Homo sapiens: one gene and its partner. The protein of the gene in region 1 purifies or fractionates together with the protein of each later gene. This does not show direct contact. Each region holds a gene or a part of one and is shown on either strand. Other genes may lie near its edges.

Evidence for each region. Proteins that work in one complex are often made in the same cells at the same time.
Region 2: the proteins of GSTA1 (region 1) and SPDL1 purify together in Homo sapiens (affinity purification with mass spectrometry; 3 studies listed by BioGRID and IntAct, with this or other methods). This does not show direct contact.

The regions. Positions count from the first base shown.
Region 1 is NC_000006.12:52,800,808-52,808,816, forward strand, and holds the start of GSTA1 (glutathione S-transferase A1), read right to left. Parts: upstream 3,010-8,009; 5' UTR 2,978-3,009; intron 1-2,977. UniProt on the Homo sapiens protein: Glutathione S-transferase that catalyzes the nucleophilic attack of the sulfur atom of glutathione on the electrophilic groups of a wide range of exogenous and endogenous compounds.
Region 2 is NC_000005.10:169,579,548-169,586,795, reverse strand, and holds the start of SPDL1 (protein Spindly), read right to left. Parts: upstream 3,024-7,248; 5' UTR 2,907-3,023; intron 2,717-2,906; exon of another isoform or gene 2,630-2,716; intron 1-2,629. UniProt on the Homo sapiens protein: Required for the localization of dynein and dynactin to the mitotic kintochore.

The DNA.
Region 1 (8,009 bases):
TCTTCTTGCAAAGTTTTGTGGTTGTTGAGTGTGGAACAAAAATATACTTGCCTTTAACAACTAATGTATTTATTTATTTATTATTAATTTTGAGATGGAGTTTCACTGTTTTTGCCCAGGCTGGAGAGCAATGGCGTGATCTTGGCTCACTGCAAACTCAGCTTCCCAGGTTCTAGTGATTCTCCTCCCTCAGCCTCCTGAGTAGCTGGGATTACAGGCATGTGCCACCACACCCGGATAATTTTGTATTTTTAGTGGAGACAGGGTTTCAGCATGTTGGACAGTCTGGTCTGGAACGCCTGACCTCAGGTGATCCACTCGCCTCAGCCTCCCGAAGTGCTGGGATTACAGGAGTGAGCCACTGCACCCGGCCTCAACTAATGTATTTCTAAAAAGGTATGTATGACTAAAATTAGGCATCAAAATCTTTTAAATGTCTCATTTTAAAATATGGGAGTCAATAATTAACCTTTGGAAAGTAAAGAATTCTTTGAAATCATACTGAATCAACTCACCTGTTTTGTCATGAGATATTTTGACATTGTACTTTCTATGATAACTCCAGGAGCAATTTAAAGTAACTTGGGAAATGGAAATAGCATAATTTGACAGAGTGAAAGGGAGAGTGAAGTTCAGATGAAAGCATGGGGTATGCTTGTTTAATTGTTATCGACTAGAGTTCACAGTGTTGTAATTCCAATCCCCAAACTAAACTCTCTTAGCCATTGATTGAGGATCATGTTTCAAAAGGAAGTGAAATTTTATCTTACATAATATTTTATCACAACACTCCTGCTGATAACTAGCATATCACTTTCTCAATGTGAGGTTTCCAAGGGTCAGGCTAAGACTGAGACATAGGTTACCATTGAGCTTTGTTGGGTCAACAGAAAATGAGAACCAGAGAGCTCAAGGATTTGCCATGGGTCACACACACATGCTCCTCATTCATAGTCAATATCTAGGGAGTGTGTTTACCTTCCGCAACAACCCTGGGAAATGGCTCCTATTATCCAAATTAAAGATGGGCACACTGAGTTTCAGAGAGCTAAAGCACCTGTCTCATGCTGCACACTTGGTGAGTGTTGGGTCAGCCTTAACTTCTGATTGCAGGTCCAGAGCTTTTCCACTCCACCTCATAACCTGGCTCTCAGCTCCTGTCTGAGAAGTTGTTTTGTATTTTCCTATTAAATATATATTAGCCAAATAAATGTTGGAAGGAGAGGACGAGAGGGGAACATCTAATTCCTGAGTTCCTCCTGTTAGCAACTTTTCAGGGGCTTGCTTGGAAGAAAAAATTGATAAAACTGTGACTTTCTCTGATTTGACAACCTAAAAATCAGAGTGAGTTGAGGACTAGTATAATTACTTTACATCAATAATTAACTTACATCAATTAAAAAATGGGCTTGTTTTGAAAGGAATATAAGCTCTCATAATTCCAGGAGTAAATTAAAGGAGTTACATTTACATCTCTGAGGTGGTCCCAATGACACTGTTTCTTATCAGAGAGAAGGGAGAATGAGATAAACTATGACTCCTTCCATTATGAGATTCATAAATGCAGTAGGTTGTTTAATCTCTGAGCCTCAATTTTCTCTTCTTAGAATAGAGATAGTTATTTCTACTTTTGAGGGTTGTTGAGAAAGTTAAATGAGATAATGTACAAAAAATTCATAGTAGGAACACAGCAATGGGTGTTTGCTCTTGTCCCAGTGCTTGGAAGATGGGTGAGTCTCTGGACATATTGAGTAGCCCATGGATCCTCTTTCTTTGATCTATCTATCCATCAATTATTTTACTGACCAACAATCTATGTATATGTATCTATTTATAATCTCTGTCTACCCATCCATGTATGTATTATTTTATCTATCAATCGTTCTATGTATCTATCTCTTTGTAATCTGTCTCTTCATCATCTATTATCTGTCTTGTATCCATTTCTCTGGTTCTCTATATTTTGTTCATAGAACTCGAGTAGGAATAAGATTTTATATGAATCCAGACTTATATCAAATCTGTCATATGATGGCTCTCTGTTTCTCTCTCTCTTTCCTTTTTAGCTCCTGTACAGAAGATATTGATATTCACTAATCAGTCCACCTGGATTAACAGGAAATTTTCAGTGAATGTCCAAGCAGTGGGGCACATCAGTAACACAGCCTTGCTTAGCCCCATGAGGTCATGTAGTCCCATGGTTCTCAACCAGGGGGATTTTGCTCCTCTGCTCCAGAGGACATTGAGCAAGGTCTAGAGACATTTTGGGTTGTCATATCTGCGGGGAGGGAAAGGGGGTTACAAATCAGATAGGTAGAGGCCAGGGATGCCTAGAAACATCCTAGAGTGAGCAGGACAGATCTCCATTCAAAGAATTACACAGTTTAAAGGGCAGCAACAGTCGGAGCCTCTTTCTTAGCTATCCTCTATATTGGCCATGAGTTGGTAGAACTCCAGAGACAGAATATGACTTGTCTTTGAGCTAATTAGTGGCAAAGGCTCAACTAGAATCTAGTTCTCCTGACATTCAAACTAATTTATTCTAATTATACTAAACCTGAGTTTTGTATTTTCACAGCCAATATAGAATTACAGTGTCACAATTTACAATTGTGTGTTGACTACTTACACAGAGAAATAAATTTTTGCATACATTGCCACTTCTTCCAGCACTGATTATTCTCAGATTGTTTAAAATGCTACCATTTCTTTTTTCTCTTCATGTCATTGTTTCCCATACCATTAAATGCTGAAGCCCTGGTTTTCTAAATTCTTCATTTTTACAATTCTGTAAAGATGTATCCAACAGAAAAGAAATAAACAATTCTTGAACTGTCACCCAAGCACACCAAGACGGCACAATATGAGTAAAAACAGACTTTTCCTTGTGCTAAGGACACATATTAGCATATTTTTCTAGGAGGCTAGAGAGGAGGGTGTGAGGCAATGTAGAGAAATTTATAAGATCAGTACTTACTTTGTTAAACGCTGTCACCGTCCTGGCTCGACAACTGAATTCCAGGTCCTAATGTATTTATAAGCTCTTTGTTCCTCTCAATAGTTCTCTCCCACTGAAAGAAGAGTCAAGTTAGGGAAAAGCCACTCCCACACATTTCATGGCCAAGGGGCCACCTACTGGATTCTAAGACATGAGGCAAGTGATCTGCTTATCAGAAGACACTGGTTAATGTGTTCCTTTTCAAGGTTGGCAATCAAAGTTTACACAATACATTTCACCGAGATTTTGCTCTTTTTGCAAGTCAGCAGAAACTGGCTTTTTAAAGATGCTTTTTTTCATGAGTTGGGTGCAAAGACTAGGGCAACTGAAAAATCTCTATTGTGAGCATAGCTGGGAGAGGATGTCTGTGAAGGGCAAGCTGATGCCACCGTTTTCTTACTGGGTTGCCAAATAAAATATAGGACATCCATGTAAATGTGAATTTCAGGCAAACAATCAACAATTTTTTAGTTATAGCTATGTTCCAAACACGGTATGAAACCAGATTATACTGAAATATTATTTATTGTTTATCTGAAATTCACATTTAGGTGGGTATCCTGTATTTTATCTGACAAATCCAGAGACCCTATTTGCATATGCTATCCTCTTTGCGTCACTCAAATTGCCCATAATATAACAAATCTGAAAGTATTCATCACCTGGATTCATCAATTGCAAATAATCTTATTTCACCTATACCATGTAGGGGGTTATGTTGGCCCCCAAGAAAGATAGGTCCATATAGAAATCCCTAGATCCTGTGAACTTGATCTTATTTGGAAAAAGGCTCTTTGCAGATGTAATGAAGTAAAAGAATTTGAGATGAGATCATCTTGGTATATCTGGATAGGCCCCAAATCCAATGACAATTGTCCTCACAGCAGAGAGAAGAGAAGACACAACACACAGGGGGTGAGGTGCTGGAACACAGAGGCAGAAATTAGAGTGATGTGGTCATGATCCATGAAAGTCCAGAAAGGCCAAGAGCCCCCAGAAGCTAGAAGACGCAGGGAAGGATTCCTGGAAATCACTTCTAATCCAAACACGCTGGCACAATGACACACCAGGGAAAAATAATTTTGCATATAGTTACTTATATGTAATTCGCATATACCATCTGTATCTTCGCAGCCAGGCCTGAGTGGCACTGAAGGAACTGAGGGAAGGCTTATGCCCGGGTCCCCACAGAGCCTTGAGGAGAGTGAGGATGAGCCAGGAGCACATGCACTGTAAGGGATGACAAGTTGGCCTGAGAGCAGAGGGTGGGTCTGTTTGCTCTTCAATATTTCCTCACCCCTTACAAAACTGAGGGATCCATAGCAGACAGAAAGGTTGTTTGAAAATGCATAAGAAAAAGTGTTTTCATGAGAAATAAAATGGATGTCAAGGAAAAAAGAAAATTTCATTTTGCCATTCCCCAGAATGATAACTGTTTTCTTGTGCAGAATGTCAGAAGTAAATTTCTATACATGACTTTCTGATAGGCCATTTGACAAATGTTGCAGGACAATTCTTGAAAAAGTCAAACAAACCACATAGTCTACATTTTACTTTTTTACTAAATTTTTAATTCCAAGAAAATTTATGGGGAGTTTGGAAATCTGATTTCATATCAGATACTAATGAAAAGAAATCAATTTTAACTAAATCTGGTCATAGGCATTTTACTATGTAATTAGCACATAATTTTTAAAAAGTTTATTAACTTCACAATAGCCACAACCAACATTTAGATAAAGCAATTTATTGTTGCAAAACTTTAGAATATTGGTATTGCATGTTCTTGGCATCCATGCCTGTTTTATCAAACCTTGAAAATCTTTGTTGCTTCTTCTAAACCTTTCGCATTTATGGGAAGCTCCCTCAGGCTGCCAGGCTGCAAAAACTTCTTCACTGTGGGGAGTTTGCTGATTCTGATTTTCAGGGCCCGCAATGCACAAAGCACAGCCTCAGAGTGAAGCCAAGGGCTAACACCACCATTAACACAACCCAGGGAATCTGCGCCCCTCCTACACAAAGACCAACTAAGTTCCCTCTATCAGCACCAGTAGGGAGGCAGAAAGAGACACTACGTGAGAAATGAAGATAAGAGGAAGAACATGCAGCTCACTAGCATTTTCCCAAAAAATGTCTTTAAGACTTTATTCAGTTCAGTCTTCCTACCCTCTTCCTTACACATGAATCTTGTAGATTCATGGCTCTTGTAGAAGATGAGAAAGAACAATGTGCCTGTGAGATAGCACAGATCAGTCTCTAAGCAGAAGAAGTGAAGATATGGGAAAATTGAGCTAGAAATGAAAATAGAAAATGTTAAAGTCAAACCATGGGACCACTTTTTCCCATAGAGAGATATAGCTTTCAGGGGCAGCGTGTTGGGAGAGCTGTGCACAAGGAACTCAGTTATCTGACAGCAAGAGCCAGAGCATAAGGAAGGAACCAGATGGAAAGGGCCCTGCTCAGACACACTTGGTGTGGGAAGATAAGGGCATATTGGGATAAAGGGCATCACAGAGAACTCAGGAACAGAAACCACAGTGAAATAAAGGGATGAGGAGAGATGCTGAGTCCTGGGTCCTTGGCATTATAAAAAGCGAAATATTCTTGGGGTAGCATGCACATGTAATTTCCTTGGCATAACAAGAAGGCATTTCCATGCCTCAGAATCAGGACCTGGAAGCTCATTTTGGAGACCTGGGGGGCCCTGAAGACCTGGAGAAGGCTGAGGTCAGAATGTGGCCAGTTCAAGGACCCAGATACTAGATCCCAAGATGGGAGATGAGGAGCTGCCTCTTGAGGACTGGGAAATGGGTCACCTTCAGCAGAGGGAAGTTGGAGATGAGGCTGGTGTCAAGCTCTTCCACGTGGTAGAGAAGTTTGACCAGGTGAATGTCAGCCCGGCTCAGCTTGTGGCCAACGAGGTAGTCTTGTCCATGGCTCTTCAACACCTGGAGAATCAGAGGAAACAGATCAGGAACACATGTGCAGTGAGGCTGGGGCCTCTGCTTCTCCCTGAGTTTGTCCAGGCTGACTCTCCCTCTCCCACCTCTGCTTCCTTACTGGGCAGGTGCAAAGATCCAGATCTTTCTCCATGTTACCTGATTCAGTGAGAGAGTAAGAAGTGTGGCTCTGCTTACTCCTTGTTTGGAGCCCAGGCTCCCATTTTCTCCTCTCATTCCACATCACTATGGCATCCACAGCACCCACCCAGCTTGCATCTTCCACATGGGCCAGGGGCTTTTCCCCTGCTGCAGCATGTCCTGTCTGCCCCAGGCCCTACAGTGTGCAGCCCTGATGTTCAGTGGCTCTACACACTCTCTCTCCAGTCTCTCTTGGGCAGCGACTCCACCTTCATGACAGCACTCTTCTCCCACGAGTAGACTATTTCAGAATCCTCATTTCTCCTCATCTGCCCTCCTCATTTCCTGCTCTGGGATCTGAAATAAGCCTGGGTGAACTTTAATTCATCCTCTTTCTTGCAATGGTGGTTCTTACTGCTTTGACTATGTTATAATCTGCATGCCACTGTGTCCCAGGGTGAACTGCAAAGATGTCTGCAACTTACTTTGAAATGCACAATAATAATAATAATAATAATAATAATAATAATAATAATAATGTGTTTGAGTGAGGCAAACAGGGGTGGAGTGACTGACACGTGATAAATCAAAGATAAAAGGTTAACTTTGCTCTTTAGATCCTTGGTGTATATATGTTCATAAAACATTTCTTTGGACTACACCAGATCTATACATTTTTAATAATAAAGTTTTTGAGTGATATATGATATTTATTAAAATATCTCAGCACATTGACATCATAAATAATAAAAAGAGAAAACATATGGCAACACTGATTTAAGATAATAGTTTGACAATACATTTTCAGACTATGTATACATACAAACGTATGGATAATGACTTGGTACACAAACAAAACAACTTCAATGCTATATTGTAATATACATTGTTCAAATGCACATATCACAGGCTATTTGGTAGAACTCGTAGAATTCTTATTCACAGTCTATTTTTATACCATGCCTTGGGAGTCAGGTGCTCCATTAACATCAAGGAAAGCTTCTTGGAAGTGAAGGTCAATGCCCCAAAAATACACAGGTACTATTTTATTTTTCTGTTGCCTTGTGTTATGGACTGAATGTTTATGTTTCCCAAAAATTCATATGTTGAGATCCTGACCCCCAAATCTTTAGAAGAGATCCCTAAAAAATATATTCTTTCAAGCCATTAGTAGGTGGGGGTTTCAGGAGATGATCAAGTCATGGGGGTGGAGCTTTCATGAATGACATTAGTCCCCTTATAAAAGGGTTCTCAGAGAACTCCCTTGGCATGTTTGCCATGTGAGGACATAGCCAGAGATTGGCTGTCTATGATCCAAGGAACAGGTGCTCCCTAGATGTGAAATCTGCTGGCACATTGATCTTGTACTTCCCAGCCTGCAGAGCTGTGAGATAGAAACATCTGTTCTTTAAGCTACCCAGTCTATGGTATTTTGTTATTGCAGCCAAACTGCTAAGAAACCCTCTAAACTCTTAGTGCCCTTATAGACTAAACAGCTTCTATCATGACCCTTACAACAGTCAAATACACCAGCATTGGCCAATAACTGCCAGCTTCCCTAATTTTTGCCTCTATTTTCAATTTATGACCAACCACAGAAAGCAAAATATGGATCTCTGACTAATCCCATAGAAATCCACACTTCTAGTTAGCCAGCTTACAGCATCCCTAGGCCAGCAATCAGGACATAACTTTTTCTACCATGAATCTCTCAGACTTTCCTGCCTACCTCTGAATCTCTGATAAATGCAAAAGATGGCGGCTGACTTCCTTTCTATAGCAAGCTCTGTATAAACACCTTTTGCTTATTCTCATTTGGACTGTCTTCACTTCCACAGTTTTTCTGGAAGTTGCAACAAGACATGGTCTATGTTGCCCGTTGCCATGGACCCCATCCGTCAACCAGGTGCTGTATCCACAAAGGCTCCTTG
Region 2 (7,248 bases), on another chromosome or scaffold:
ATGTGAAATGGCTCAGACTAGGGTGGCAGCATAGGAGGCTGTGAGAAATGGCCAGATTTTGAAGGTTTTGAAGGTAAGGTCAATATGATTTTCTGAAAGATATAATTTGGGATGTGTGAAAAAGGGAAAAGTAAAAAATGCCTCCAAGTCTTCTGGCCTGAGCACCTAGTAAAATGGAATTGCCATCAGCTGAAGCACTGATGTAAATAATGTTTTGGAAATAAAATCAGGAATTTGAGTTTTGAACATGAACTATGTCAAGTAGGCAATTGGATATATGAGAAGAGGAATCTTGGCTGGATATGCAAATTTGAGAATTATCAGTCTATAGAGGATAAAAGTATTTAAAGAGAAATGGACCAACGACTGAACCCTGTTATGAGGTAGGGAAGAAGACAGCGGAGAATCAGGAGTGACCAGTGAGGTAGAAGGAAAACCAGGAGTATGTGTTGTCCTGGAAGGCAATAAACAGTGTATTAAGGAGGTGGGAGTAATCAATCATGCCAGATGCTGCTGCTAAGGCAATTAAGGTGAGAGCAGAGAACTGGCCATTGAACTTGAATTCCTGGAGGTCTCTGGTGACAAGAACAGTTTTGATATCCAGGTGGGGGTGAAAGCCTAACTAGAATGCCTTCAAGAGAGAATGGTAGGAGATAAAGATAGCAAGCACAGGTTTGCTGCAAAGGATAACGGATAAACGGAGCAGCAGTTGGAGAGGAAGTAGGGACAAGTTTTTTTATTTTTAAGATGGAAAAAAATAACAGTGTTTGTAGGTCATGGGATAAATCCAGGAGAGAAGAAAAACTGATGATCTAGAAGACACTGGAGAATTGCTAGTGATGTCCCTGAATAAACAGGATGAAGTTTAATGTAGAGACTGGTTTTAATAGAAGCATGGATATTTCATTTAAGCAAAGTATATGAGTTTAGATGCTGATAAGCAGGTACAGTGGTGGAAGTCTGTGTAAGTAACCTTTTAACTGCTTCAATTTATCAATGAATTAGGAAGCAAGGTCTTTAACTGAGAATGAAGACAAGGGAAGAGATACAGGGTTTAAGAGAGAAAAAAAGGTGTTCTAGGTAATCCCAGCTTGGCAGTCACTGCTCTAAAATGCAAGACCTTTTCAAAGCCTGTACATGATACGGCCAGCCAACTAAATGTTGTACTGTTCACAATAACTTACATTCGTTGAGGATTTACCATTTGCCATGCTAACTGCTTCAAATATATTATCTCATCTAATTATCTTGATGAGCTTGAGTTAAGTAAATACTGTCATCTCAACTACCAAAATAAAAATAGGGTTAACCTCAAGACATTCCAGCCAGGCATATCCAGAGAAGCCAAAAAAAATTTGCTTTAGTTTATTCAAAAAATTTGCTGGAATTCTTATTGTGTGAGACATTGTGCTAGTGTTGACAACACAATGGCAACCTAAAACAATATTCCTGTCTTCTTGAATCCTAGTCTATTAGTAAAAGACATTAAATCAAGTAATTGAACTATCAAGTTACAAGTATGATAAGTGCAAGAGAGACAGATGTATGCTACCTGAGCCTGTAACAAGGGGGAGCTGTCCTAATCTGGGGGGCAGCGCGTAGAAGGGAACATGGACAAAAAAATTTTCCTGAGGAAGTAACTTTTCAGCAGAGGTCTAATGGATGAGAAAGAGTTAACCTATCAATCTACAAAGAGAGATAGCCGTGGTTGATTAAAAACTACTAATGTGTGACAGACATTGTGCTTGGTGCTTTATACACATTCTTTTTTTTTTTTTTGAGACGGAGTCTCGCTCTGTCGCCCAGGCCAGACTGCGGACTGCAGTGGCGCAATCTCGGCTCACTGCAAGCTCCGCTTCCCGGGTTCACGCCATTCTCCTGCCTCAGCCTCCCGAGTAGCTGGGATTACAGGCGTGAGCCACCGCACCCGGCCGCTTTATACACATTCTTATTCAATCTTCTCAACAACTTCAAGAGGTTGAAGGTATTTCCCTCATTTTACACATGCAAGCTGAGGCATAGAAAGTTTTAAGTAACTTGCTTAGGGTTACCCGCAAGTTAAGACGCGAAGTGTGATGGGAACTAGAATCTACCTAGAAACCATGGTGCTGCAACCATTTTTCCTGTCCTGCTTCTCAAAAATATAGCACACACAAAGCATTTGGGACACAGGAAACTCTGGGAATCAAACTGCCTGAGTTCTTACCCCGCCTCCACTACTCACTGGCTGCATGAACTTGGACAAGTTATTTAATTTCTGGTTTAATCATCTATAAAAACAAGCACAATAACACCCACCTAATCGGTTACTGAAAGGATTAAATGAGATAACGAATGAAAAGCAATTAGGGTAGAATCTGACACACGGCTGGGGCAGTGCTGTCCAGCAGAAATATAACGCGAGTCATGTACGTGATTTTAAATGTTCTAGGAGCCATCATGATTTAAAAAGTAAACAAAGATGAAAAATTAATTTACATATTTAAACAAATACACTCAAAACATCATTTCAACATGTAATCATTATAAAAATTATTAATGAGATATTACTCCTTATGCGCTATCTCTGAAACCCAATATGTATCTCCCATCTGCACCATTTCTTAGTTCGGGCTAGAGGCTACCGTACCGCACAGCGCAGATCCAGTGGCGGTTATAATTTTGAGGACCCGGCAACCGACCCAACGTTCCATATTTGTCCAGAATCCCTGAGGGCGGCGAGGTGGTCCAGCGGAAGATAAGACCGGCTCGGAACCCAGTGTATAAGACCCCAGGGTTCCGGGGAAGGAGATGTTTCAGCTAAAGGCCTCGGCCGAGACCCCGGCCCCTAGCTTTCTTTAGGGCCTGTTCGACTCTCCCCACTGCCGCTCTCCACACCCACCTCCCACCAGGCCCCTTGCCCCTACCTCTCACGCTAGTCCCCTGCTGCCGCAGCCAGCGGCTCCTAATGGGAGCTCAGGGCGTCCACATTGAGGACGCTAACTCCACAGTCGCCGGCCCATTCGCTCAGCTAGCTCTCGAGTAAGCGCCTGGGATATTTGAATGCAGTTCCCGCGAGAAGTCCCACGTCTCACGAGACGTCCGCCCAAGCCGCGCGGAAAGGAAAAACCAAGAGAAACGCCCAATGGAGCGCCCACCCCCTCCTACAGCTACTGCGCATGTGCAAGTGGCGCGCCGTGGGCTTGGCGCAGGCGCAGGCGCAGACGTGGCTCCACATAAATTTTTCCTTGGGCTGGTTTCCTGCATGTCTTTTAAGTATTTGCTTTTAGTTTCCGTGTTTTGGTGTTTTGTTTGTTCGTTTTTTTTTTTTTTTTGTTTTTACGACAATGCCTTCTAGGGGAACAGTGTCGCTGGGCTGGGCGGTGGAGAGACACCTTTGGCACCATCGTGCGATCTCATGCACCCTACCAGTGGTAATACTGGCGTTAATATTTAAGTTCCCACCATGTGTTAAAGTTTACAGATTATCTCAGTTAAGCCCGCAGCCTTATGAGGCAGATATTACTCCTCGTTTTCTACAGAGAAAAAGCCCGAAGAAAAAAAGTGCCTTGTCCAAGTGGTAGAACTAGAATTGAATGCAGTCTTAGAGTCCAAGCTGTTTGCATGTGTTTTTAATAATAATATTTTGTAACCCTGATGCCTATTCAAAAATTGAAGCGATCAGAAATAATAATAGATAACATTTAATGAGCACTGATGAGTCCTAGTAACTGTTACATGAATCATGTCGTTCTTTCGAGCCCATCTTTTCTTGCCTATTTGAGAACTTGGCTCTAACTGCTCTTTTTTGCATCTTCAGTTTTTTCTTCTCTATTGGATCTTCCCTATCAGTTCATAAACATGCTGCAGTGATTGCCATAAAATCATTTCATGATTTCATTTTTTAAAAAATCCTCCTTGACACCAATCGGCAACCACCCCATTTGTTTTCTTCTCTTTATAACAAAATTTCTGGGGAAAAAAAATCTTTACATCCATTATCTCCATTTTCTTACCTTTTGTTCTTTTGTTTGTTTTTCCCACTTTAACCAGGATTTGGTCCCAACCAATACTATGAAGTGGCTCTTGTTAGGTTTACCAGTGATTCCTACCTTGCAAAATTCGGTAGTCAATATTTAGTCCTCACTTCTGGTGAAATTTGACAGAGTTGCTTGCTCTCATTGATTTGAGTCTTTATGTCTTGGGATGCCACACTCTCCTTGCCCTCTTCTTCTCAGTTTCTTTTGCAGACTACAATTTCTGCCTGAGCTAAGCCAGACTCAAAGGGTTGATCTGAGCTTTAAGATTGGCAACAAATTGCTCACAGTGTTGTCTCACAGATTTATCTGGGACTCCAATGAACCAGATGCTCATTCATTTGTAATCACACCTATGTTCTTGGAGAAATGAAACAAATACCATTTTCCCTATCACTGAACAAAGATTCCTTAACTCAGGGGCCAGGAAAAGATTGTTCTAGCTTAGGCCAATCATGACTGGCTGCAATTAGGTAATCTAAAATCGATCTGAACTTATTTTTTCTCCTTTGTTACAAGAGAAGGTATACCCTATGTTATTAATGTTTCTTCCTATTCTATTTTAAAAATATGTATTTTAAACTATTAATTGAGTGACTGCAATGTGTTAGGCATAGTGGAGGAATTCAGAGATGTGGTAAACTCGACTATTGCCTAGAAGATGCTCGCAATATAGTAGGAGATTTTAAAAAACAAATAGAACTTACAGGGCTGTAAATGCTATGCAAGTGGTATGTGCCCCACACTAAAGGAGTTGTGTGAAGGGAGAGGTATATTTTGTCTAAATGTTCCTTTAAAACTTCCCAGTGCATGTGACACTTCAAGCAGGGCCTTGAAGGATGGCAGAGCTAAGGAGGGGTGCATTCTAGGGGAGGGGACAGCATTAGGAAAGTCTTAGAGGTTACCCCATGTCATAATAAAGGTCATTCTTTAGGGATGGCCTGAATACAGGACTGCCAATACCACCACTGGACGCTAGATGTCACAAGTGAAATGAATTCTAGATGGGTTCTACTTTTAAGATAACTTAATGGAACTTCTGATTCACAATACCAGATGCAGATCTCCGTACTCAGGCAAGGTCCGCATACCATGGCCTAAATACCAAAGGTCAGGAAAAAGCAAAAAACAGCAACCTTGTATCTGTTATTTTCCATTTACGTAAGGAGAGATGGGACTTGGCCTCCTCACACAGTAGTGGATTCACCAAGCATAGGATGGGAGTTCAGATTCTGGGAAACAACACCCACCTCCCAACTCTGTGGCCCTCAGTTACAATTCCTAATATTATAGCTGTTCAGAACTGGGATAGACTCCTGTAGTGAACTTGTCATCATTTCTTCATTGTGACTGTTCTAGACGAAACGAGAGGATTAGACTGTTACGTTATATTGAAAGCTGCATATATTTTGACAGGAACTTATTGAATGATCATTTGTTTTGGGCATTACAAATGAATAGTCTCTGTATTAAACGAACTTAGAGTTTAGTGGAAGAGACATTTACCAAACAATAAACAGTAAATCCTTACTTAGAGGATGACTTAGACTTTCTTGTTCCTTCATGTTATTAAGTAGAGCTGCAAGCTAGTCATCGCTGGGATCAAGCAAAAACAAGCTCAGGACTCTGAGACACAGAGTCTGCAAATAAGAATGAGATTAAGCTGTAGAGTGCTGTGATTTATAGGATGGGCTGGAATATGAAGTTACGAAAGTTACACTCAAGGTTGTGGTCACTGAAACTTGGGGGATGGCCGAGATGAAGAAAAAAAGCTTTGAGAGAGAACGGAGGGGTGTGTGCAGGACTTTTGGGATTGTCCTAATCCATGGCACAGGAGGAGAATAAGGATCCAACAAGAAAAACAGGAGCCATATGAGAAGAGATCAGGAAATTGAATTGTCACAACTTCCACTGTGATAATTAGATATCAGAATGAATCATTGTACCAGGCAGGTGGGTTTGACTGTTTAATAGTAATAATGATAATGAAACCCAGTCTGCGATCTCTCCTGTATCAACAATGTATAGCATCAGCTTGAACTCTGAATGAGCCTAATAGCTATACTATTTTTTCTTTAAATAGGGGGAATCTTCTCTCAGAGAAAGAGTGCACCATCCCAATATAGTAGACATTTAACAGCTAACATCCTAGCATGAATTCCTTCCTCCTATTCCCACCAAGAGAATTCTGATTATTCTTTTGTATAATTTCTATTTTCTCAATTTTCAGCCATATGAATTCTTTAAAACTGATGCTACCTTTCATCTCTAGGATATCCCGTCACCCTGGTTACAGTAATTGATTCAAAGATGTGCATGTGATGGAATCTAAGCCAAAGAGATTTTTCACTGGGACAGCTGGAAAAATGGATTTTGTTAACTGCCTCTGTTATAGTCTGAATTGTGTCCTCACCTCCATTGCCCCCCACCCCATATTCATATGTTGAAACCCTAATTCCCAATGTGACTGTATTTGGAGACAGGGCCCTTTAGGTTAAATGAGGTCACAAGGGTGAGGCCTTAATTGATAGGGCTACTGTCCTTATAAGAAGAGGAAGAGACATCAGAGATAGATCCCCTTCCTCTTTATCTCTCCCTCTCTTTTCCCCACTACTCCCAAGTGCGCACAGCGAGAAGGAGGCTGTCTGCAACCCAGGGAGAGAGACTTCACCAGAAACCAACCTTAGTCTTGGACTCCCAGCCTCCAGAACTGTGAGAAAATGTCTGTTATTTAAGCCACCCAATCTGTGGTATTTTGTTACAGTTGCCTGAGCAGATTAATACACCCTCTGTACTTAAACTTTATAACCCAGAGCTTCCAGCTGACAACTTGGGTTCATGAAAGACAAATCTGCTTGGAAGAGAGGGAGCAAAGAGTTCTGGTCATGCCATTTGAGCCCTGCATCAAGCCTCTCATGAAGCTAGAGCTGTCCCTGGACTGTTCAGTTTTTGCTCAAACCACACAGCTTCACTTTGAGTTTTCTGTTTTCTGTTGTTTGCAACATAAAGGTTTTTTGTTGTTGTTTGTTTGTTTTGAGATGGTGTCTTACTCTGTCACCCAAGCTAGAATGCAGTAGTGCGATTTCGGCTCACTACAACCTCTGCCTCCCGGGTTCAAACGATTCTCCTGCCTCAGCCTCCCAAGTAGCTGGGATTACAAGTGTCCCCCACCACGCCTGGCTAATTTTTGTATTTTTAGTAGAGATGGGGTTTTGCCATTTTGGCTAGGCTG